Regions from separate parts of the Homo sapiens genome. Here regions 1, 2, 3, 5 and 6 are each reported to be linked to region 4. Evidence: microRNA targets listed by miRTarBase, many of them from high-throughput screens and not tested one by one. Region 4 holds a microRNA gene; each other region holds the end of a gene's coding sequence.

The links. The annotated mature microRNA hsa-miR-4287 reads UCUCCCUUGAGGGCACUUU and lies in region 4 at 1,117-1,135, shown strand. An mRNA with a match to its seed (bases 2 to 7 or 8) in the 3' UTR can be bound and repressed. Matches are read on the target gene's strand: a 7mer-m8 pairs with bases 2 to 8, a 7mer-A1 pairs with bases 2 to 7 and ends in A, and an 8mer does both.
Region 1: the mRNA of EMX2 is a reported target of hsa-miR-4287. Seed matches in the 3' UTR shown: 7mer-A1 at 3,653-3,659, 8mer at 3,587-3,594 and 7mer-A1 at 3,410-3,416.
Region 2: miRTarBase lists MYOCD as a target of hsa-miR-4287. Seed matches in the 3' UTR shown: 7mer-m8 at 2,544-2,550, 7mer-A1 at 562-568, 8mer at 131-138 and 7mer-A1 at 33-39.
Region 3: the mRNA of SLC7A6OS is a reported target of hsa-miR-4287. Seed matches in the 3' UTR shown: 7mer-m8 at 3,151-3,157, 7mer-m8 at 2,718-2,724, 8mer at 1,135-1,142 and 7mer-A1 at 838-844.
Region 5: the mRNA of FAM210B is a reported target of hsa-miR-4287. Seed matches in the 3' UTR shown: 7mer-A1 at 2,240-2,246 and 7mer-A1 at 1,865-1,871.
Region 6: the mRNA of SP9 is a reported target of hsa-miR-4287. The part of its 3' UTR that is shown has no 7-base or 8-base seed match.

Annotation. Positions count from the first base shown.
Region 1 is chr10:117,547,836-117,551,940 of GRCh38, reverse strand. It overlaps EMX2 (empty spiracles homeobox 2), which reads right to left. Exons shown (of 3, transcript NM_004098.4): 3 at 2,395-3,876. The coding sequence ends at 3,709. Among named protein-coding and RNA genes, the nearest start is that of EMX2, 7.1 kb to the right of the region's middle. RefSeq lists enhancers at 1-49, 1-969, 908-2,252 and a silencer at 3,949-4,105.
Region 2 is chr17:12,762,975-12,767,079 of GRCh38, reverse strand. It overlaps MYOCD (myocardin), which reads right to left. Exons shown (of 14, transcript NM_001146312.3): 14 at 1-4,007. The coding sequence ends at 3,436. ARHGAP44-AS1 (ARHGAP44 and MYOCD antisense RNA 1) reads left to right here. Exons shown (of 2, transcript NR_104607.1): 2 at 3,362-4,105. Among named protein-coding and RNA genes, the nearest start is that of ARHGAP44, 24 kb to the left of the region's middle.
Region 3 is chr16:68,297,788-68,301,892 of GRCh38, forward strand. It overlaps SLC7A6OS (solute carrier family 7 member 6 opposite strand), which reads right to left. Exons shown (of 5, transcript NM_032178.3): 5 at 247-3,618. The coding sequence ends at 3,488. SLC7A6 (solute carrier family 7 member 6) reads left to right here. Exons shown (of 11, transcript NM_003983.6): 11 at 1-4,032. Among named protein-coding and RNA genes, the nearest start is that of SLC7A6OS, 11 kb to the right of the region's middle. RefSeq lists a silencer at 199-493.
Region 4 is chr8:27,883,118-27,887,222 of GRCh38, reverse strand. MIR4287 (microRNA 4287) reads left to right here and starts at 1,107; the gene lies at 1,107-1,184. The region is part of intron 7 of SCARA5 (scavenger receptor class A member 5); the gene reads left to right.
Region 5 is chr20:56,365,491-56,369,490 of GRCh38, reverse strand. FAM210B (family with sequence similarity 210 member B) reads right to left here. Exons shown (of 3, transcript NM_080821.3): 3 at 828-3,420. The coding sequence ends at 3,204. AURKA (aurora kinase A) reads left to right here. Exons shown (of 9, transcript NM_198437.3): 9 at 1-101. Among named protein-coding and RNA genes, the nearest start is that of FAM210B, 8.5 kb to the right of the region's middle.
Region 6 is chr2:174,337,280-174,341,378 of GRCh38, forward strand. It overlaps SP9 (Sp9 transcription factor), which reads left to right. Exons shown (of 2, transcript NM_001145250.2): 2 at 1-1,221. The coding sequence ends at 261. Among named protein-coding and RNA genes, the nearest start is that of SP9, 4.4 kb to the left of the region's middle. RefSeq lists an enhancer at 1,256-2,888.

The sequences.
Region 1 (4,105 bases), not on the chromosome of region 4:
TGACCCACGATGCCCATTGAGCCCTGCCCGGGAGCATCCAGGGCTGGCACCCATATAGCACGAAGGGGCACATAGACCTGCGGCTCATGGCTCCTACAACCCCCTGCTCAGCTCAGCACGCGCGCACTGCGAAGGGAACGCAGAGGCAGGGCACACGCGCACCCTGCCCCGCGCCCCACTCCCAGATAGTCATCGTGGGATGGCATCTCGCAAATATTTATATTCCTCAGCGCCACGGCAGCCCGCGTCCACATTAGACACTCTAATCCTGCCACTTTAAATAGATGAATTAATAAAGCAAACGAGCGGCTAATAAGCTGACTGTCCTGCCTTTTTGAGGCGGAGGAAGGACTCGAAAGTGCGCCAAATTTGTTTGCAGTGGATCAAGGCGAGCCGCCTCTGCTTCACTTTCTTTATCTTAATTCCGACTTGAAAAGATATAATTATCTAGTTTGAACAGAGCTGCTATCAAATCCTTCTTTGGGCCGGGAAGGGGGGCGTTGGAGTGGATTGCGGCTCTCTGAGCCGCTCCGTGCAGCCGGAGATAGCGCGTAATGAAGATGTGGAGGCCTGAGATACAAAGGGCATTAACCTCATTAGCATGAAACCTTTTCTTCTTACCATTGTGGGACCCTTTCAGCCGCCTAATCCCCCCTATTTTCAAAGCTTGGTTTGTAATAAAGCTTTTAGTTTTTTTTTCAAAGCTAATAGTATTCTGTGATGATTTTATTGCTGTTACACTACATAGGACATTTACCCAAAAAAAGAAAAATCTTCACCACCAGCCCCGTTTTCTTGTACTTAAAAAGTATAAAGTATATAATTTCGGCAGAAGTAAACCTTCTGTTAAGACGGAATTTTTTTTTTTTTCTGGACAGACCATCTGAATTTTAAGAATGTTTAAGAATGAGCTCGGTGTTTGAGGTATTCCGGGTTTTGGAAGGTGAGTGGAAGGAAAAGGTAATTTGTACTTGTTGAAGAGAAAGGGATGCTTTCCGGGAGCACTGACTGCAAAGCGCTTGAGACAGCTGGTGGTCACTGAGGGTCGTGCTGTCAAAGCGCCTGGAAGCCCCACGAGGGTTTCCAGGATACCCCGAGGCGCACCTGTCCCTGTGAGACGCAAGCCCGGGTCTCCTGAGGCCACCCCGTCTCCCTCCTCCCCCGGCAACTCCCGGCGGCGGTGTATCCCCTCACGGCACACACACCTTCCAAGAAGAGTCTGTGAAAATGCACTATGAGCAGCCAGGTTTCTACAGAGGGACAGAAATGGGGGGAAAGAGGGGAGGTGGAAGACAGGCAGAGATGGGGGAAAGGAGAAAGAGACGGAGAATGAATTCTGCTTTAGAGAAGAGGAGAAAAAAAAGAAAAAATTTCCATAGTGCCCTATAGTCCCCACACGTGCACGGAATGTCTAATCTTAACTTTTCAAGGCAAGATGTTAACAAAGCTTGTATTTTTGCCCTGCATTGTAACTTGGCCTTATCACAGTGTAAAGGGTGGGGAGATTGTCCTAAATTATGTCCAGGCAGCCCCCCTGGATCCGTGGATTAAGAGATTAAAGGAGACCACTGGGCAAGGCCTCCTCTTTCCCCTTCATATTCCTGGTATGATAATTGCTTAAACTGATTTGCACTTTCACAAAAGCTCGCAGGACGCTTTGTAGCTCGAACAGAACAGACGAGGTTTCTCTATCAATGGAAATAAAACTGATTAATGCAGCCTATCAGGATAAGAAGCAAATGAAGCATGCAAAAACAACCTCGTACCCCCAGAAGGGGGAAGGAGGGAGGGAAAAAAGCTAAGTTTCCTCCAAGTCTGATTACAACTTTTTCTTTAATGTTAAAATTAAGAGTTGAAGGTTTTTCAGAACACTTGCCTTATAAGGCTGCTGAGGCCCTTGGGCTTGGCCCATCACCTTCAGCAGATTGGGGCCAGGGAGAGGAGGAAAGAAAGGAAGGAAAAGTAAGACTTGTACTTTGGGGTTTGAAGTCAGAAAGTTTAGAAGTTGCAAGATTCTGCTACATGTTTTCCCCAATATTTTGGGAGAGTAGTCCTCAATGTGTAACTATATGTCCAGTTTTTTTTTAATAACCAGAGGTTAAGAGAAGTAAGCATTTTAACCTGAAGTTCAAACTAAACTCCCTCAGGAGGGCATACAATGGGCAAAGTCTGGTTGAAAAACTTTTCTCCCATCTCTTTTCTGAAGGACTTAAGTTTTCCTAATCTTCTCCCTTCTCCACCCTCATCTTTCTTTAAAATGCCTGAGAATCCATCAATCTGGCCCTTTTGTGGGTGAGGAGCCTGGGTTTCTTGAGCCTAGTTGGGGAAGGACCACACTCAAATTACTGAGATACATTTTTAAAGATCCACTTCAATTTCCCAAGACGACTACTCTGAGGGCATATTGATAAATCTTTATTGACAAAATATTGACATTGACATACTTCTTGGAAGTATATAGTGTGTTAGAATTCTAACAAATTAACACAAAACACAAAAATATTTACATTCTGGTATAGAAGACATTAAGGAAGCATTTGTCACTCTCTTTAGTAAGTCTATGATCTTGGAATAGAAACTCAGTGCTTGAAAACTTGCCGCCGTGCGCTTGGCCACACTTAACATCATCCCCGCTAACTACAGTCCTTCAGGTTTTGCAATAGATAGATTTAAAGTTTGGAATAGGCATTGCAGTGAATGGTTGAACTCGGCCAATTTCTCCAACCACTGAAAGGAGAAGTTTGCATCAGGGTTTTAAGCCTCAGGATGTTAGGAAAGGGAATGTCCAAGAAATATAATTAATTTAGGGGTTTTTTTCCCAGTACAAGTCCTGATTCTTTTTGTGGGCACCCTCCCCCGCCACCCCCAGCCCCCCCGTCGTCCTGCTCCCCGTTTCTCTGTAAGAGGACCACTATCGCTGAGCCTACTTCATTTAGCTTGCACAATCACTTTGACATCAGAAGGTATCAAAAAGTGTTTACAGACTGCACATTTCTTGGGAAAAAAAATCAAAATAAAAAGCACACAGAACCTGTCTTTAAAAGGAAAAGAAAATTACAATTCATTTTCGGTCTTTAAACACCATTCGCCCAACAACTGCTACATGCATTTCAAGGATTTGAAACAGGTGTGGGATGGGGCTAGATATGGAATTTTTGTTTTTTATTACTAATTATTTTTAAAGATGGGGGGGAAACACAGCGAAGTGCAAAAAACAAAAAAGTCCTGTGCCTGGTTGGGTCGTGGTTTTTATCATCATCATCATTTTTTAAGTGGACTGTGATAAACGGAATACCTGCCAATCATCTTGTCTCCCCGGTTTGGTGTTTGATTGACAGCTCCCCTTGTCAGAGTGCACGTTCAGCTTTCTCTCTCTCTCTCTCTCTCTCTCTTTCTCTCTCTTTCTCTCTCTCCCTCCCTCTTTCTCCTTCTCTCTGTGTCTCTCACTCAGCTGCCTCTTTAGACGAGGGTCGCTTGTTGATGAAGGAGCCTCCATCCTCTGCCATCTTGGCGCGGCCTCGGTTTGGGACCCTGTGCCCTCGCTGTCCAGAGTCTTCGCCGCATTCCGCTGCTCCCTCCGATTCCCTCTCCCTTTCTCGGTGAACGTGTATGCGGTTTGTTTTTGTTTTGTAGGGTTTTTTCCTTCTCCACCTCTCCCTGTCTCTTTTGCTCCATGTTGTCCGTTTCTGTGGGGTTAGGTTTATGTTTTTAATCATCTGAGGTCACGTCTATTTCCTCCGGACTCGCCTGCTTGGTGGCGATTCTCCACCGGTTAATATGGTGCGTCCCTTTTTTCTTTTGTTGCGAATCTGAGCCTTCTTCCTCCAGCTTCTGCCTTTTGAACTTTGTTCTTCGGTTCTGAAACCATACTTTTACCTGCGGGTGAGAGGCAGATGGGGTGCGTTAGTTCTTTCAGAGCACCCTTCTATCAAGTGCCTGATCCTTTCACCCAGCCCAGACTCCAGTTCCAGACTCAGCAAAGACCCAGCCCCCGAGATGCAAGTCCTAAGGTCCAGCCTCCCCAAGGCCTGCCCTCAGGGAGCAGGGCCGCTAGTGCGTGGTGGAACAGAAGCCCAGCTCCCTGCCCTTCTGAGGCTTCCTGAAG
Region 2 (4,105 bases), not on the chromosome of region 4:
CTTTCTTTCCTCTCTTCTTTCCTTCCTTCCCTTCTCCCTCCTTTTCTCTTTACCCCCCTACCCATCTCCTATCTTCCTTCCTCGCTCCCTCCCTCTTCTTCCTCCCTCCCTCCCTCTCTTCCTCCCTCTTTCTCCCTTAGAATAGAATATGTGTTGTCTCAATAACGTTGATAGAAGCAGGGTCACTACTAATAAGCACTGGCTTCCTGCAAGCACTTGCACGAATAAATTTTTTGACTTCTTTAGATAAGTATGAATCTACCAGACTGCAGCAGATAGCTGCAAATGTCTTCAAGTCTTCATCACCATGGGGGTTCAGAGGTCTTAAGAAAACTACACATGGTCATCTTCAGGTTCTAAGAGCATTAGGGAACTTGAATGTGACCATCTTCGTAAGTCTCTGTACATCTTTTAGTCATGCCTGATTTGTCATCACAAAAGACACAACGAAGAGTTTAAAAGAATTTAAAATAAAATTCTCAATGGGAGACAAATTCATGGATTATCTGATCTACTGGAAGCAGCCAACTTCATCAATTTTCTCCCAATTATCTCCAGTTTTCTCCCTCAAATTTCATGTCTGAGCTATGAAGAGAGAGGGTGAATGCGGTTTGTGGAGACTGTAGAAGCAGGTTGAGAGCAGTTATCCAGAGATCTGCTCTTTTAACTGTGTTGGTTTGCATTAGGATATAGGAACCATTTTATCTTTTGTCTTCCGTAAGGCATATCTATCAGTCCTGGGTCATAGCCTCAAAGATCCCCATAAAAAGGTACAATCTGGAGAAGTACAGAGGCCTCCTAACTAGGTCTAGTCTCTCAGATAGAAATACCCAAGGAAAAAATAATTAACACTCAGTCCCAGGTCTCAGAGTAGGGGCACTGTGTGAGTTTGTTTTCCAAAGGAAGTAAGGGGAAGAAAAAACATACAAACAGCAAAACGTGACACCTGAAAAGTGCACTGACCAGCAAGCTTTGTCAAGACCCCAAGAAAACACCAACAGCTGAGGAATGAACAAATGTGTGGAGTGTATTAATAAGGTTTTCTTCCCCAGTAGCTTCATCTTCAAAGGAAACACTGGCAATTTTTTCTTCTGGATTTTTTTGGTTCTGATGACTGACATAAAAGCAAAATAAAAAATTTACCATGTGGATCTTTTAAAGCACAATACAGATAAAAGGAATGTAAAATGATTTTCTTGTTCCTTTCATATTCCTCTATAAGAGACTGTGATACCATTTCCAGCTACTAATGGTGAAGCTGTTCTGTCTTTTCACATCCATATTCATTGCCAAGATGAGCTTGTTCACGATAAGCAAGTAGCTGTGAGTCATCGGGTTGGAGCCGTTAGTCATACACAGAGAGGCAACGTGTAGTCTGGTTGGTTAATCAGAAATTCATAGTGAGAAAGGCCAGGTATCATTCACAGCAGATTAAGGGTTAAAGGCTTTTGGTGTAGAACTCTGTAACGCCGCTTTTGGAGATACATGCACACACAGATATAATATACACATATGTATATATCTATTATACATACATGTATGTTTGTGTGTGTATGTGTATTCCTCCACATCCCACCCCCAGAATAAGATCTGGCAGCTTTCAGAGTAGCAATCACCAAAAACTCTCTGTGTTCACACATTTTTACAAGTTAACAATGGAATGACTTCTAAATCTTTGGTTTATCAAAAAGAGAGCTTCTAAAATCCCAACATTTTTGATTATTTTTTCTATAAGTGCACAGTGAACAACTTTTTTTTTTTTTTTACAAAAGATAAAAACAGTGCCTTAGTGATTTAAATAAAAAAACAAAACAACAGCAATAGCTCCTTTCTACAGCATGCAACAATATAAAATGGTGAACTGGAGCCACAGAGAGCCTTACAGAGACTGTTCTGAAATTTTAGCTTTTTCCAACTCCCAGCCAAAGCCACGAGAGGTAATGAGGAATGCACATTAGACCATTGTCTTTTTCCTTCCATCGTTTTCAATGCGCAATTCTGTTTTCTTTCAAAAACCCAGATCTGAAATTCTCTCTTGTAAATATCATCCATATTTGTCTTTACAATGTAATGATTTCCAATTTCCCCAGAGCAACACAAACCAATAATTTCTTGAAAACTAAACGAGAATAGAAAGAACTTCGTGACTGATGGACCAAGTCACCAGTTTCTTCCTCAAGAAATTCTTGCAACTTCCTTTTGCAGCAAACTGTGCGTGTGGAGAATGAGTTCTCCAGAAGAACCTGGATTGTTAAATTTTTCAAAAATGGCTTTCTTAGGAGTATGGCAGCTTGTTAGAACTGAGAAGTCCTCCCCTCCCAATGTGGAGGCAGAAAAAGAAAGATGGCCAAACGAGGAACAGGAAAGGATTGGTACCTTGAAGGAAAAGTGGAGTGGGAGAAAGATAAACTGATAATAACAAAACAAAAGGAGAAGTTGGACTCCCATAAGTAATAGTCCTTCTATAGGAACCCAGGGTGTTTATCCCAGGGTATGTGAAATGATGTTATTCTCTAGTCCTGTCTGAATTATCCCTGGTGGGGCTCCCTTCCTGTGCCTCGAGATATACTTCTACCAATGTGGTCATCTCTAGTCTTTGGAACTAAAGGGGGCTGTGTTGGAGAGCTTGTGGCATCTCCTTCGGGGGAAGAAGGTCTGCATTCTTCAGGGTTCTCATCTAGGACACGTACTTATCAGCACAGAGATGGTGGGAATGATTGGGCCACTAGTTAAAAAAGAAGAAAGTTCCGAGTGGAGTTCTGTGGACTCAGTTCAGGTTAATTGTTATTAGTGACCACATCGAGTCCTGGGTACAGGTTCAGAACCACTCCAGCAGGGCAGTTTTGTGGTAGAGGGAAAAGAGAGTTGATTAGCTTCCCTGGAAATCGATTGGTTTTGTTCCTCTGTCTCAAGAACTTTTGATCTGAAGCTGGGTCTGGCTTCTCTTTTGAAAGATAGTAATGGAGACATTGGGCAACAGCTTCCATTGCAGGTATGTCTTCCATAAGCTTTGAGGGGCTGGCTTCCCTGTACTCCCAAAAGACTACGTTTTCCTTCCACGTTATGTCTAGTGAATTCATGAGAAAAGCTTACAGTGTGAGCTTATGCCCCAACAATGCCTGAGAAAAATTATGGGCTAGAAAATATACTGGTCTTTGAAAAGGCAGTGAAATATCTTTTTTGGCATCCTTAATCTGAGAAAGCACATTCTTTTAATGCATTGTTGAAATCATTAACAGTTACTGACTGTTGGTAAATATTACAGTATATGTATTTCTAAAAATGACTTTTGTTCTTGTTCATTGGCACAGAAATCATTGCTTCTTTTTAATTCTCTTCTTCTTCTTCTGTTTTTGGACAGTAAAGTATGTATGGCTGTGTGCTTTCCCCCATGGAACTCCATTGGTCTTCCATAGCACTGGTGCATTGGGCATTCTACCACTGCTGCAAGTGAAGGTCCATGGAAGAATTCAAATTGAGATCAGTGACATCCAGGAAATCGATGTTGAAGATGCTGGGGCTGCTGGTGGTGAGGGCGCTAAAGCCTGGTGTGGAATTTGGCGGAGTGAGGTCCAGCCACTCCATGGTTTCCCAGGGAGATTCAGTGAAGCTTAACTGCAGCCCATTGCTGTCCACAGAAGAGGGTGAAAACTGTGTCTGCATTGGAGAGAGGGGGCCTGGCAAGATCTCATGTGCATTGAAGAGGTCTTCTGCAGCCTTCCCAGAGAATCCATCCATTATCCCATCAAAGTGAGGCTCTTCGCTCCCAATTTTTAGAAGGGTGACATCACTCATCTTTCCTAGGGGGCTCTGGGAATTTAATAAGACTTCAAGATGCTCATCACTGTCGGTGGCATAGGGATCAAAGGGGATCTGGCTGCCTGAAGAGGCTTGTTCAAAGGAAGCCGAGGGCTTGGTGAGGACAGCAGTTGGACTTCGGGAAGATCTGGGTATCTTTGGGACTTTTTGAAGACATGAGTGATCCTCTCTAGCGTCTGCTGGCATTTCTGTGGGCAATACACGATGTGACTTGTTAAATCACTTCAAATTGAGCATGCCACACAATATGAGTGAGTTACACTTAGATACAGAAGATGGCCACGCT
Region 3 (4,105 bases), not on the chromosome of region 4:
TCAAAATTCTTCCCTGGGGAGAGAGTTATATTCCCTTATTTATTGATATTTAGTCCAGAACACCAGTTCTAACGAAGCATGCGTGTCTCTTCATCTACAGGATGCAATAGGCTGATTGTATTTAAAAATCAAAGTACCCAAAACTGAGTCCCTTTGGGCTCAGAAATGTCTGTGGTATTGGGTCAGACTCTGACCACAGGTTTTATGCTGTTTAGCACAATTTCTATTGAGTCTTACCTGCAACAATGAACCTTAAAGATTTTTTTACTCACGTACCTGTTACACTTTAGCATACAGATAGATCATAGATCACGTTACAAGCACTTGGCTCAGGTCCAGCAAGGACAGATGAACAAATTCCTGAGTCAGAAGTCTGTTAATATTGCTGTTTTGAAGGACAATCCTTTATTTTACTTGAGACCTTACATCTTTGTTCTAGCTGACAGTAAATCTCTGGGTTTCTGTTACGAACTCTAAGAGGGCTGAAACTTCTGATATTCAGGTGGATCACCTGAATTCTCTCAGCTGTCAATGGCTTGGAGAACATCTCATGGGCCCAAGTCATCAAATAACCTGTTCCTCTCTGTAAGGGCAGTGTGAGGGACTGCTGTGCAGACCCAAGCAATCCCAACCTGGTGCTAGGTCATTTCACTTTTCTGAAAACCTCACATCAGGCTGCATCCTCTTCTGTCCCTGGCACCAGGCTTTGTTTACACTTGGAGCCACCTTGGTGTGGGTCACCGGGACAGTGTACTCCTCTCCTGCCAGCCTCCCCTTCCCCGAGGTGTGGTGGCTGCAGTCTCAGGAAGAGCTTGGTACTTGTGGGGACTTCTGTTTTCTCCCTGTGGAGATCAGTGAAGACTGGGAGGAAAGCTGCTTCAACCTGAGTCCGGCTCTTCAGCAGGCTGCACAAGTGGAAGCAACTAATTCTGGTGCTCAGGCTGGGCTCTCCACCCAAGTTAGGCCTGCTCTGGCCTAATGGATCTTACTGTATGAGCAGGACGGCTGCATTGGATTGTACAACTGTTTTGTGATGCCCCCAGACACTGTCATCCTGGGCCGAGAAGAACCTGCTAGCTTGACATACCCCATGGGCTTATCCTTAGGTTTTGGAATTGGTCAACAGTGAGGCAGTCTCCCTTCCTGACCATTCTTCTCCACCCAGTCACAGATAAGGGAATAACCTTGGCCATATATTTGCTCAATAAAGATTGAAGGAAGCATGGTCATAGTTGCCCTGGGTTCAGAGCATAATGCATATGTGAAGCATGGGGTGACATTCCTACTGTCATGGGTTTGGGATTTGTAACGGCAAATTCCTGCCCGACGACAGGGTGTCTTATGCAAAGGCTGACTTGCCTGAACGCTAAGAACATGACTTCTGTCTGAGCTAAGCTGGCACCCATCCCAGGGCTCCTCTGGAGCTAATCCTTTAAGCAAAATGTGCTTGCCTTTTAAAGATCCCTGACCCCAGCTTTAGCTTTCTCCACCAGATAACCAGCTAATCCCAGGAATTTGCTGCCCCCCACCAGTGGCTTCTAGGGAAAGCAAGGACCTCACATGCCAGGTGCCCTAGTACTTGCTTAGTGAGCCATGTCATCCTCCTTTCATTTTTGGATGGTGACAGCATTTTTCCCCTCTGTGCTGGATACAGACTTCTCCCAGGATCCTCTCTTTGGGAGCGAAGCCAGAGGATCCCTACAGCACTCAAGCTTCATGGTGGAATTAATTTCTGCCAGCTCTTTGTTGTCTGTCTCCTTAAATCCTTTTCCTGGTGTGCTTATTATCCCTTTTGCAGTGAGTACAGTTTATTAAGTTGTCAGCCCTTTAATATTGGGGAAACTTAATGAGTATAAATAGCAGGGAGCACATTGTAACAGCACAGTGTTTTGTTTTTTTCACCCGGTTGCTGTATGAGAATGGCTTTCAATCCTTTGTTTCTATGCCTACAGACAGAAAGCAAGATGTCTAATATTAGACATACAAGTTGCTGCCTGTTATAACGGTGAATTATACCTTTGTGCATGCCTAGGATGTTTGTTGTTTTAATTAGCTGCAATATATACGGCCTGTGTACACAGAATTTAATCACTTCGGCAGGTTGAACAACTCCATGTAGATAAGAGCAAGTGTAGGCAAAGGTTTAGAAAATGGACATAAAGTCAAAGAATGATGGCAGGTAGGATGAAGGAGAGATACTTAGGAAATCCTAAAAGAGGCGGCAAGAAGGTACCTCCCTGTGTAACTCACCTTCCCCCATGACAGTGAGTAAGAGACACTCACAGGCTATGAGGGTACACCCCTAGCTGAATGTTCTGTGTTGTTTCCTTAGACCTGTGGTGTCCGCTGCAACAGCTACTAGCCACGTGTAGCTAATTACATTAAAATGAAATAAAATTAAAAGCTCAGTTTCTCAGTTGCGCTAATCACATTTCAAGTGCTCAGCAGCCACCCGTGTCTACTACTACACAGTGCAGACACAGAACATATCATCACTGCAGATAGTTCTACTGGACAATGTTACGCTAGAATAAACACCAAGGCAGTCAGTTAAGGCAGCTATGGTTTGGAAAGGCATACGGACAGAGTCTGCTTAGAAGAGATACAAGTTGTTAATAAAATTGATCCTGTTGATAGTAGTTTGTTTTTGTGGTGGGTGCTGTGAAGAGTAAACATTACTCAGTGGAAAGCTAAGTTCAGAAGGTACTTTGTTTTTCCTCCCTTGCCTTAAGTCCTTGGTATTTATAATCAATGCTGAACCTTCTATTTCACTACCGCTCCCTGTTTTAGATATTCAGATTTAAAAGGTTTTCAAAGAATTACTTTCTTCCATGTTCAAAGCTAGATTTTACTAAACACATGTATCACATTCATATATATTGTTTCTTGGCCCCACTGCCAAAGGAAGTCAGTCAGTAATTTCACAACCGTTATCAGAGTTTGGAAGCAGAAATAGCTGTTAACTAAAATCTCCCACTGCTCAGACTACTTTCTGCCCTAATGGCCATTACTATCCAGTCTGTATTGCTACAAGGGACCCACTGGTACCCCTTTTAGATTCTATCAAAAGGAACAGGGTTTTCCTAGAGGCAGGCAGCCTGGTGGTATGGCACAGCAGAAGCTTACTGCTAATGAAATGGGAACCTCCCCCTCCCTTGTGGTTTCAGCACAGAACCTGAATGCCAGGAAAAATTCCTGGGCCAAGAAGCTAAAGCTAAAGAAACCTTCCTTTTTTCAACGTTTTTTTTTCTTTCAAACTGTAGGGTCACTTTTGATTGAGGCAAAGGGGTCCTACTGTAAGTGGAAAAGACTCACTCCCCTAACATAAGTTTTCACTGTGGTGGGATGGTGCCGCCCGATATGCTTGATATGCTTTTCCTTCCACATGTTAAGCTAGGAAACCTAACAGGATGTCAGCAGGGCAGTTAACTCTGGACTCAGAGCCCTCAAGGGCATGTGGCAGAACCTCATGGACATCACAAGACCATCAGTCTGAATCCAGGTCGTGGGGGCTGTCATAGCCGAACTCCTTCTGCACATCCAGAGGGTACTTGCTCCACATCCGCTGTCTGCTGCTGCCTCTTTCCTCCTCACTCAGGCTGTTGTAGTCAGCAGAGCCTAGAATGACATCCCGGGAGTGGATTCTAAATGTGATTTTCCTAGGCTACTGCAGGAGCCCCTTCTCTTCTCAGAAAGGTCTGTTTTTGTTCCCGATTGTAATGCAAAATCCTTGCTCAATAAATAAAAAAGAATATAGAATTCTTTTTTTTTTAAAGAAGGAATCACTTTCCTATCATCTAAACCAAGTTCCTTCACACTGGAGTATTTTGTCACTTCTCCCCTCCGTGGAGTATTTTGTCACTTCTCCCCTCCGTATAGGATTTTTTGTTGTTGTAAGAGTTGTAGTCATATTGTAAATATTTTTGTACCTTTCTCCTTTTAACGTGTTATTGACAAACCTCCCCAAAAGAATATGCAATTGTTTGATTCATTTCTCTGTTATCAGACACCAATAAATTCTTTTTGTTGGGCCTTCTTCTCTCTTCTTTAATATAGTTACTACGGGAATTATGTTGTCAGAGCATCTTTCTTCTTCCCCCAGGTA
Region 4 (4,105 bases):
AATGTGGTATGATGCCAAGGAGGAGGTGAAGGTGCCTCGCAGTCATTGAAGGGCAGTTACTAGGGGACGTGGCTGCAACCTCGAAAGCCTGGGGTCCCATTGCTCATCACCAGCTCTCTTGCCCTTTGCCCTCTACCTGGAGCATCTGCTCTTGCTTTGGAGCCTAGGAGTCTCTGAATTTCACACAATCAAGAATCCCTGTCTCCCATTTTCCTCCACTGCCACGTGCAGAGAGAGGCATCTCCCTGACTCCAGTAGCCCCGTTCCCCCTGCAGGGACCCTCCTGGGGGGCATCTGAGGAAAAAACTCCCTGGACTGACAGGAAGAGTCTTGGGGAAGTCACGGACCAGGCTGAGGCTGCCTCTCAGTCACCACTTCTGATTAAGTCGGGGCTGACACATTGTGGGGCAAGAGCATTTCCCAGTGGTGGTTGGTGGCTTGGTGGGAAAGCTTTGACCTGGGGCAGAAACTGCCGGGAAAAAGCAGCATTTAAACCCTCTGCCCACAGAAACCCAAACCTCTTAAATGATGACGTCCTTCTCAGGCTAGAGGGTAGTCACTGTTGGAGGGCGTTGGTGATTCCCCAAGTGTGTTGCTGGAGGTGGCCTCATTGCTCAGCTCTGGGAAAGGCTCCTGCCTGCCTGCCTCCCCTATACCTCTTCAGGGGTAAAGGAGGCCAGAGACACAAGTTTCTGAATTTAGACTCTGAGTTCCTGAATCAGGGCAGCCTACATCATAAGCAAGTCAGACCTCAGCCTGTGGTTTCCCAGAGAGGTGGTAACAGAGCTGAGATTTTGTTGGGTGGGGAGAAAAGGATGCAAAATCCACAGCTTAGGGCCATGCTCTGTGAAGTGGAGCTACAACAAAATGTGGCCTCTGATTTGGGTGAGTCCAGGGGAGAAGGTGTGGCTTTCAGATTTGTGTTGACCCTGCTGGGGCAGGCAGCATCTGTTGACCCTGTGGGCAGGCGGCCCTCCACCATGGGGGGAAGCCCTGAGTCTAGGGGATCTGGGGACAGGTGGTGAGGAACAGGCCTCCATGCTTAATGAACCGACACTGGGGTCTGGGTGGAGTGGTGCCTTGTGCAGCCTCGCCCAGGTGCTCTCTAGTTCTTTTTCTCCCTTGAGGGCACTTTTCAGTTCCTGAGATCAATGTGGTCCCTACTGGGGAGACCATAGGAGCCCTGCAGGCCATGACTTTGCTCAATGCATGGTAAGCATGGGCCATGGGCCAGAGACATCCTTGAAATTGATGCTTTGCATCCCGTGATTATGGTTATCATATGTTTTCAATTTTTTGAAGGTGTCTTGTTTCCAAATATTCTTCTATCACTTCTATATACATTGAAACCTCTTGGGAATTTCAGTATTTCAGCATCCAAATGACATTTTCCAGACTTCCCATTGCACCCACCATGATCATCTGACAGCCATGTCCCCATTCTCTCACTTGAGATGTACGGTCATTGTAACAGCCTGAGCTCTGGGTCCAGAATCCAGAGTCATCTCAAGTAGAGAAGGCAGCAAGTATGTGATTAGAAGTGTTGTGATGTAATAAAGAGGATGCTGGAGATTTGGGGCCCTGATGTTGGATTCTCCATTCAGGTTGCCACCAAAGCCCTGGACTCTGGGGAGCCATGCCCTCCAGCCAGCACCTGCCCATCTGGGTCCATATTAATGAGTCCCTCCATTCATGCATGCCTTCCCTTTGCACAGGCTGGGTATCTCAGTGCACCGGGCCCTGTACCAGGTCACGTGATCCTCAGAAGGCTCACAGTGTCCTAAGAGAGTAAATAGCAATAGCAATTATGACACAAAGCTATAAGCATGTACCTAGAAGGGGCCCTGTTGGGTGTGGGGACCAGGGAAGGAGAAGAGGCATCTAAGCTGAGATCTAAAAGACAAGGAAAGCTTAGGCCAGAGTACAGAAAGGAGTTTTCTGAGGTGGGGGAGTCCACGTCCTTCCTCAGCTCATTCAGGTCTCCACTCAAGGCCTTCCTTCTCTACTCGTCCAAAATGGCACCTGCTCTCACTCCCCACCCTCTTCCTTGTTCACTTGTCCAAGACAGTACCTGCCCTCTCATTCCCTCCCTTGTCCACCTGTCCAAGATGGTGCCTGCCCTCTCTCTCATTTCCTTCCTTGTCCACTCGGCCAAGATGGTGTCTGCCCTCTCTCTCATTTCCTTCCTTGTCCACCCGGCCAAGATGGTGCCTGCCCTGTCTCTCATTTCCTCCCTCCTCCACTTGTCCAAGATGGCGCCTGCCCTCACTCTCCACTCCTTTGTTCACTTGCCCACAATAGTGCCTGCCTCACTCTGTACTCCCTGTGCTTCTGTTCCCATCTATGCTCTTATCACCGCTTGGCTATAATTATGGTTTTGTTTTTGTTGACTAGCTGTATTGCTAGACTCTCCCTAGAATGTCAGCTCCATGAGGGCAGGGACTCTGTTTGTGGGTGTATCCACAGCTGTCTGATAGACTCTCAGTCACTTACTTGGCTAAACGAGTAGGTGCACAAAGTGAGTTCAGGCTGGCCAGAACAGAGAGGCTAAGTCAGGGAGTCTCCGACCGTCTACCTTGGCTGCCTAGTCACACCCAGTCACACTCTTCCTGTTGTTTTGACCCCACACCTGACTTCTGCCTGGCCTGCTCTGTGACTCACAGCACCCTCCTGCCACTTCTTGCCCTACTTGCTGACCCCACACTGTGGCTTCTGTTGCAGGCCTCCTGGTGCAGCCAGAGGTGAGGCAGGTCTGTGAGAAACCAGGGCTGACAGCCTGGCCTCAGCCAACCCAGGGCCAAGGCCCCGCGCAGCGGCCGGGTCCCTCTTGGTGCTGCTGGCTGCAGGTTAGCCTGTCCTTACTGCTCCCGGGGAGTTTCTTGGTGTCAGACCCAGCCTCTGAATTCCAGCTCTTCTCCATGTTTTTCTTCTCCAGGATCTCTCTGTTGTCTTGCATAGCCTCAGCCTGTTTGGGGACAGCCTGAATGAGTTTGTATTTGCAGTCTGTGTGGGGAGAACGGTCACCTGGCCAGGGATGAAGGATCCGCAGCAAATACATCCAATATCGAGAGGAGGCATCCCTGGTGCTCTCGCTGTAGTCTTTAGCATCATTCCTGGGGTTGGGGTCGCTTCCTGGTGGCTTCCTCGGTTCCTCTGCAGAATTTTCTGGGGTTTTCTTGGCCCAGGCATGTGGCCAGTTCTGAGTTCTCTCCTTTCTCATGGGGCACAGATGTCAATTCTGCCATCTCCTTCGGGACCTATGAAAGTCTTTGCCAAGTCACAGTCATTAAAAGGAGGCTCCTTCCAGCCCACTTGGCCAAATACAAGATAAAGGAAAAACAAAAGTCCAGGAGTGCCGCGCTTATTAGTAGCAGGGCTTGAGTAGGTTTGTTATTTTCTCTGGCAGTTCACATGGGCATTTTCCTGCATTGTGTCACCCACTTGTCACTGGGTTCCAGTACAATGTCCACCCCTACCCCACATGACACCAGTGGATTCTGGCTTTAAAAAGAGATGACCCTGATTTCTTCTCTGGCCTTGGATTACTGAGGGTTGGAGCTAGAAGGAACCTTGCTGATTGACCCTCTAATCTAAATGCCAGTCCACAGCCCACAAACCAATTGTTCTGAATTATTTGGGACACTTGGAAAAATAGAGATCCCTCACTCTTGCCACCAAGATTCTCTTTCAGTAGGTCTGGATTGGCCGTGGAATCTGGTGTTCCTAATGATTTTGATAAGACCCACTGACCACTCCAGTATCTTATCAAGTGAGGATGCTCAGGTCCCAGCAGGGGAAATAGCCCCCAAGAGTAGTGGGGCGGGCAGGATGGTGAAAAGGATGTGGGAAGACACATAAGGAAACGCAAGCTGTGATCCCAGCTCTGGCACTGACCATGTGTTTCACCCTGAGACTATGACTTCCCAGCCAAACCCTGGCTTTGTGATGATCCAAAGGCTTCTTTCAGTTGCTCTGGTGTTCTTTGGGTCCCCAACATTTCCCCTTGGAGAACCAATGCATTGTAATGCTCAGGAATGGCTCTCTACTACATTCTGCAAACATTGATTTTTCATTTCCTCCAGCCAGGCTGTGTGCCAAGCACTGA
Region 5 (4,000 bases), not on the chromosome of region 4:
GGCCATGTGTCTCAGAGCTGTTAAGGGCTTATTTTTTTAAAACATTGGAGTCATAGCATGTGTGTAAACTTTAAATATGCAAATAAATAAGTATCTATGTCTGTGTGGAGTGCTGTGTAATTCTTTCCACCATCTGTTCATTGTTGGCCTGGAAATGAGCAGGGGCTGAGAGGAGCAGGTCTCGCCCTCATCTAGTCCTGCCTCTTCTGGTCTCTCCTGTTGGGTGTACTCCTAATACTTCATTATATATATTGTTTATATATTTGTCATATCTTTGTCATCTGTCCATCGACTAAAGATACGGTGAAAGTGACTGTGATGAAGGAAAAGTAGAAGTGTTGAACTTAGAGCTAGTAGAGAAATCTGCTTGCATGGCCAATGCTCAGTGCAAGAAACTGGACAGCAGGTATGTCAGGATATGTCATAACAAAGTGGCCAATATAGAGAAACTTAAAAACATGACTCAGTAAAACTGCAGCTGCCAGCCCCCTTGGGACAAAGGGGCTTCTGGTTCTCATAGTCTTGAGCTGAACTGACTTTGACCTTCCCAAATAGTTCATGTGCCACCCTCCCAAGCTATAGTTATTATCACGTGACTGACTTTCCCAGTGACACCAGTGAGACTTGGGACGTTTCCCCAGACAATCCCACACAAGCAAAGAAAAAGCTCATTGTAGTAGCACATTAATACACTGGTCACAGTGCCACTTCATCATCAGCAACAACCATGGCTTACCAGAAGGAATATAAAAAAGTTCATAAACTATAAAGATGTTTCACAGAATTTAAGCTGCTCACTTTGTCAGATAAATTAGAGAAACAATGGCTTTCATTTTTAAAATAGATGTTTTATTCTGCTAGTTCCATAAAAACAATGTAAACACAGGCGTTCTGTACATCTTGCTGGTGAATTCACATAATGCTTAGTTCCCTGATCCTTTGACCTCCTTGTCTTCTCCGGTTATTTTCTGTTTGGACCCCTGGCCACAGGAGTGGAGTGGGGTTGGGGCTTAGGAGAGAGCAATGTGGCTTTTTGGTATGATTTGTTTTATTGCTTGCCCGCTCAGCACGCTCCTGTTACTCCTAACAAAGTTTGAGATTTAAGCCCTTAAACCTGTAGGTTTCACCATCAGTTTTTCTTTTTTTTCTTTTTTTTTTTTTGCATAGGCATTACTAGGGACATAAATGGGAGACTGGCATAGAAAGTGGTGAGGAGCCGAAGCCAAGGAATTGCTTTAAACACAAGATGAAAATACTCTGTTCTGTCCAAAGCATCACCTAATGGTGTGAGGCATCTCACTTAGCTGTGGAGAAGTCCTTGGAATTAGATCTCAGAAAGACAGCTTTAAGACAGTAAAACCTTTTGGCAATGGGCTAATTGCCTTAAAAGAAGAGTTCTACCTGAAAGACCTTGCAGGTGGAGAAATTGTCCTACAAAGATTCTTGGATATGTTAGTGGAGATAACTGACATGGGTAGCTGTGGGTCAACCAGGAACTGTCAACAACCTGATCTCTGCAAAACCAGGATGGCCAGTTAATGGTTTATTCAGTTCTCTGATGGTCACAAATGTAATTTTATTTAGCCTTGTGGAGGTTCTGCAACAAATGTAATTTTAAAGGAATTAGGAGCCAGAAAGATAAATGCAACTCCTTCAACTACGTGACAGGGCAGACTGGTGAATCTGGGTTCCCAGAGTGTGGAGCAAGTGCCCTGCATCAGAGAATGGCCCAGGGGGAACGTGCATGATGCTGAACCCCGCAGGACAGAATTACTTCAATCGCCTGCTCCTGACTACTATAAGGACGAAGCCTCAGTGTCTCAGTTTGGATCTACGCTGGGATTTCTTTCTTTTGGAGACAGTGTCTCCCTCTGTCGCCCAGGCTGGAGTGCAGTGGTGTGATCTTGGCTCACTGCAACCTCCACCTCCTGGGTTCAAGCAATGCTGCCTCAGCCTCCCCAGTAGCTGGGACTACAGGCGTGTGCCACCACACCCGGCTAATTTTTGTATTTGTAGTAGAGACGGGGTTTCATCATGTTGGCCAGGCTGGTCTCGAACTCCTGGCCTCAAGTGACACGCCTGCCTCAACCTCCCAAAGTGCTGGGATTACAGGCGTGAGCCACCGCACCTGGCCTCTATGCTCGAATTTCTACTCTTAGCTAATCTCTCTAACACATATGCCCTTCATTGGGTAAAGCTGGCTCAGCAGACTAATTACACCTGTCATGTAATACAAGCCTCTCCCTGGCTTGTATTATCTCATGGTTGCCTTCTATTTGTGACAAGTGCTATGAATATTCCTTTTTAAGAAGTGATACAAAATCTTTTTTTTTCTTGAACAGGATTTTTAACTCAGACAGTGTAAACATCATGACAATTCTGGAATGTCTGAAGTTTGAGATAGAAGATTGTCTAAGAAAAGCTGAGATTGTCTTAGCTGTTTGTGGTATCCGAATTCCTCTGGAACATGGGCATCAGGAACCAAGCGATGCCACTGCTACTGGGCAGGGTTTTTATATTTTACCTAAACAGAGACAAATGACGCTGACCTACCTTAATGAAATTTCAGAAAAACCATCTGGAATCAGCCCCATCATGTCCAGATTGGAAGGTATCTGGGGATCAATGAAACATACCAGAACTACTTTTCTTCCCCCAAACCAATGTAATGAATGTCAAAGTATTGATGCTAATTTAGATTGTGATTACATATTAAGTTTTGCTTCATTAATTGTAGCACTGGCAGCTGTTTTGTGAACGCTGCATATTAAACTGTAGGCAGCTGACAACAAATATCAGCGGAAGGGGATATTTAAAAGCCAGTTAAATTAATCAATGCTTTTTAGGAAACTGAGCCAAGATTAACCCCCTGGTGCTTTTACCCACAGACCCTCGCCAAAGTCTCCCACAAGGAACATTTGTAGGCTATTTTGTTTTGAGATGTTAACCCATCTCCGATGCCTTGCTGACATTTTAGATTATATATACAAGCCCTATAATGAATAGCATTCACAAAATTTATGAGGCAAAAAATTAAAATTGTTCAAAAGCCTGATTTTTGCTGGCAAAGTTTATCCATGAGAACATAGCAATTAGCCCCCTACCTCTCCAAAAGAAACCCTACAACCCTAAAACCCTAAAACCAATCCAAATCATGTAATTTAGAAGAAATAGGTTTTCAGTGTGTACGACTGAAGAGTTCATTAAGGTTTTGCAGCTGGAGGTTTAAAAAATCCCACTTTTCGAAAATATCTGACAATCAAGGGCACAGAGACTAGCGTAATGCTGATTCTCACTGGCGCAAACAGCTTGTGGATTGCATAGGCCACCACGAAGGTACTTGTGCCTGCTGCCATTTTTGACTGTACCAGGGACTCTTTAAATCCGAGTTTCAGCAGGATTGCAGGCATGTCCACACCACTAGGGGGGAAGAAGCAAAGAAAACAATTATTACAGCAAGGGATTAAATGAAGAAATTGATTTGGCTATAAGATTTACAGTATTTTAAAAAATGTAATGAAGTAGCTGAATGAATAAAAGTCTTAGTGGCCAGGTGCAGTGGCTCACGCCTGTAATCCTAGCACTTTGGGAGGCCGAGGTGGGAGGATCGCTTGAGCTCAGGAGTTCAAGACCAGCCTGGGCAGCATAGCAAGACTCTTGTCTCAACACAACAAAAAAACATACAATCGGCCTGACGCGGGGGCTCACACCTGTAATCTCAGCACTTTGGGAGGCCGAGGGGGCGGATCACTAGGTCAAGAGATTGAGACCATCCTGGCCAACAGGGTGAAACCCTGGCTCTACTAAAAAGACAAAAATTAGCCAGGCTTGGTGGCATGCGACTGTAGTCCCAGCTACTCGGGAGGCTGAGGCAGGAGAACCACTTGAACCCGGGAGGCAGAGCTTGCAGTGAGCCGAGATCACGCCACTGCACTCCAGTCTGGCAACAGAGCGAGAGTCCGTCCCCCAAAACAAACAAACAAACAAATCAGCTGGGTGC
Region 6 (4,099 bases), not on the chromosome of region 4:
AAGCGCTTCATGCGCAGCGACCACCTGAGCAAACACATTAAGACGCACAACGGGGGCGGCGGGGGCAAAAAGGGCAGCGACAGTGACACGGACGCCAGCAACCTGGAGACGCCCCGTTCCGAATCCCCCGACCTCATCCTGCATGACTCCGGCGTCAGTGCCGCCCGGGCGGCGGCAGCGGCGGCGGCGGCAGCGGCGGCGGCGGCGGCGGCGGCCTCCGCGGGAGGCAAGGAAGCAGCGTCTGGCCCCAACGACTCTTAGAGGCCGGGCGAGAGGCGCGAGCACACAAGCGAGTAGAGACACCGAGAACGAACGAGAGGTTCGGAGGGCGAGCGAGCGGGAGGCGGGAGGGCAGGGGCTTCAGTGACGCCCCCAGGGCCCGGGCTGGGCGCGAGGTGGAGCCGCTCAGGGCTCCCGGGCTGCGGTTCGCCCGCTGTGCGAGGAGCTCCCCTCTGCCTTCCGCGCCCGGATAAGAATCGAACGCGTGGTCCGGAAACAAAAGCGAACCATCCTCCGACACAAACACTTTAAAAACTGTACTCCCAGACGTACACATACACCGGAGACCTACAACCACAAGCACGCACACTCGCGCGCGCACACACATACCACTCGCCCAAACTTCTCGAGCGAAGAGCAATACATAGAAAGGCTCCCTCTTTGCCCACTCTCCACCTCCCTCCAACACCCGTCTCTTTCCTTTTCTCAAAAACAAGCCACCACCCAGCAAAGGACTGTCAGAACATTTGAAAACAAACGGGACCGATAAAAACACCCTTTGTTTGGATTATATTATATATAAAATGCTCCAAGTCCTGCCTGATATCTACTTACAATGAGACTTTTTTCCTAAAAAAGGAAGCATCAAAAGGCTTAAGGTGAGAAATTAAACTGGAAGTCTAGCGACAGTTTCTCTGTATTTCATAACATCTGTATAAATAGGGTTCAAAAGATTGTGTTCTCTTTTATTTTCTTGTAAATGTTCATTCGAATAGAGTTTTTTTGGGTGAATCCCTGAAATTCAGGGAGTTTTTTTTAATTTTCTGATGCACTTTGTGAAAGTCAGTATATATGTAAAAGATATTTAAAATGTTGAGTTATCATTTCACTCACAAACACGTAAGTTAAGGTCATCTAAAGAAATTAAATGCGTTTATCTGTATCAAGAAAATCTTGACATCATATTTTCATTTTGGTATTATTAAAGGACTCTGAACAATACATTTCCTTTTTTAAAAATCCTGTTTCCCCCTCAATAACCTTTTCGTGGGTCGATTTTTTTTTCGGTTGGGAAAAAATTCCCTTAATGTTAGTTGTAGGTAATGTAAAGTTTATGTGGGTTATAAAAGCCATACTACATATACGTTTTTGAGAAGTCAAAATTATTTATTTGTATATCAACAACATAAATTAAATTGGGTTGTAAGGACGTGTAGTTGTATTACTTAATGTGAAGGCTCTCAAAAGGTGACATTTTAAAACTCTGGAGCGCCTAAAAAATGCAAAGGTCCTTGGCAGCTTTAATTGGGGAGGTGCCTAAACCTCTGGGAGGGGTCAGAGAAAACTCTGGTGGGTTTGTTTGTTTTTAAAAAGTGATTTAAAAACAACTGTGAAAGGAAAACGCTTAAAAAAAAAGAAGTCTTTTAGCTCCCAAGGCCCTGTATGTTGGAAGGCAACTCAAGGGAATAAATCGCTAGAGTCAATACCCCGGAAAAGACATTTCATGCCTAAATGAAAATCTTGTTAAATGTTATTAATTTTGACTTAGAGCACACAGCAGCCCCCTGTGCCTTGTATTCCCTTATTAGGGATTCATGTCTTATCAAATATCTAATTAATCTCCTAGACATCATTTGTTCTGGCCAACTTTATCTCAGCTGGTCCGCGGGGAAAACTCCAAATATTCTCTGTGACAAAGCTCCCTTGAAGATCTTTTTAATTGTCTAAATTAACTGCACCAAATTTGCATGTCAAACGGTAAAGGGCAACCTGAGATAAAATGTAAACGTTTTAAAAAGCCCCCAAACTAAGCACTTGATTTGATAACTAGGCTTTTTAATGTTATGGAAGACAACTGCTCCTTTCCTTTTCAAAGACGGCTGATCTATGCAAATAGTGAATTGGAAATGCCTAGGTCCCCGCGCCGTCAAATGGCCCTCGCAGGTTATTTGAATATCAGTGGCGCTGCTTCTGAAAAGGTTCAAGGATGCTCTCTGACTTCTTTGTGATTACTCAGTGCGGCGTCTTATTCTGAAGAAAAAAACTCAGGAATAATTAAAGGCTGGGATCAGGCCTGGGAACACATTTGGGACAGGAATCTCATTTAGACAGTCTCTTTCAAAATAAGGCACAGTTAAATTGACCAGAAGGCAATTATTGAAATGAAAATTATTTTCACTCTCTTTGTCTTCTGACCACCAACTTAACAGCCCCAGTTTAAAAGAGGGAGAAAAGAGGGAGAGACAAAAAGAAAATTGGTAAATGAGATAATTTCGCAATTCGAAAAAAATGTTAATTTAGAAAATAAAGTACATATTTACAGAATAAAAATATTTCTAAAAGATTTCCCACACAAGAGGAAATACAAGCGAAGTCAGCACCAACATATTTTTTTTTTCCATTTTTGATTACTGTCCGCCTTGGGAATTTGAGCGAAGATTTTGATTTTTAGGAAAGAAAAAATAAATTCTTGTTATTAACAATCAGCAAAATGTTTTCTCGGAAACTGTTCTGAAACACCAAGTCGCAAAGTAGCGATAAAACAGAACGAAGGTCCCCAGCAGGGAGTTTGCAGCGTGACATTCAATGGCTTCTTCCTTCTCCTTCTTGAGCTCCCCGCGGCCAGGCTGCCCCGCTCTTCTTACTCGAGTTTTTCTTCACTTTGGCCATTTTCTCTCCCCGATCAAGCTGTTCATAACCGGGAGCCCCCCACTCCCTAAGCGCCTCTGGTCGGGGGATGGTCTTCCGGAGAGCCGGCTGGCAGGGACGCGTTTTCCGGAGGGGCTTCGGGCCGGGGCACTGGAGGCCCAGAGGGTGCCTGGCGCGTTTGGGGGCCGCGGGCTGGCGGCGCGGAGTAGAGGGTGTGGTGGGTCTCCCCAGGAACGCGGGCGCCCGGGCGTCGGGCCCAGGGAGCTTTGTTTCTCGTTGATAATAAAGGCAGATCAAAGGGCCCGGTCGTGCAGGTCCCGCTGGCCGCGCGGCTCCCTCCGCAGGCCAGTGATCAAGGCCTGTGTGCGCTGCCTCTGCCCCGCGGGTCAGCGGACGTCCATCACCCAGGCTCCCGGGAGCGGCGGGCGGCGGCCCCGGACCGAGCGTCCAGCCGGGAGACAGCAGTCCGCGGAACCTGAGCCCAGAGGCAGCGGGGCCCCGGGGCCCCGGCCGAAGCCAACAGGCGAAAACAGGGCCTAGGCCCCCTGCCCGGCCTCCCCCAAGCCCTAGGCGCCCCTGGGGGCGCGGGGAACCTTGACCTGAGCGGGTGGCGACCGGCCGGCCGGTGATGACCAAATTGGAGACAGCGCGCGTGGGAGGCGAGATCCCGCCAGTTACAACACGAGTTCGGTCCCCAATTGCGGTGGGGCCTCGCCTCCCCAGGGCCACCTCGGGGCCCCAGAGGCCTGTGCCTTTCCGGCTCAGGGGCCAGAAGGAGCTGGAGGCGGTGGTCAGGGGCCCAAGCTCAGAGGCGGGTAGCGGCCTGGAGGTCGGTGGGGGCGGGGGACGCGGCCTGGGGGCCCAGAGTCTCGCCCGGGCCCGGTAAGGGCAGTGCGATTTCGAGTCCCCCGGTTTCCCTGGCATTTCCTGTCCCATAGCTTCCAGCGCAACAGAGGAACGAAAAGCAAGTTTTCCTCGGCCCTGCGCCCACCCAGCCACGATCCGCACCATCCTCCAGCGTTTCCTTTTCTGACACCAGTTTTCTGCCCTTGGAATGAATTGGATTCTACCTGATGAGGAAAAAGAAAAAGAAAAGAAAGAGATTTTCTTTCCTCGAGGAGGGAAACAACATTATTTTGACTAGATTAGATTGTGCACCTGAATGGTGCGTCTGGACTTTCCGTCAAATCGTTACAAGTCGTGTAAAATTGAATTTCTTTTTATTCGGATG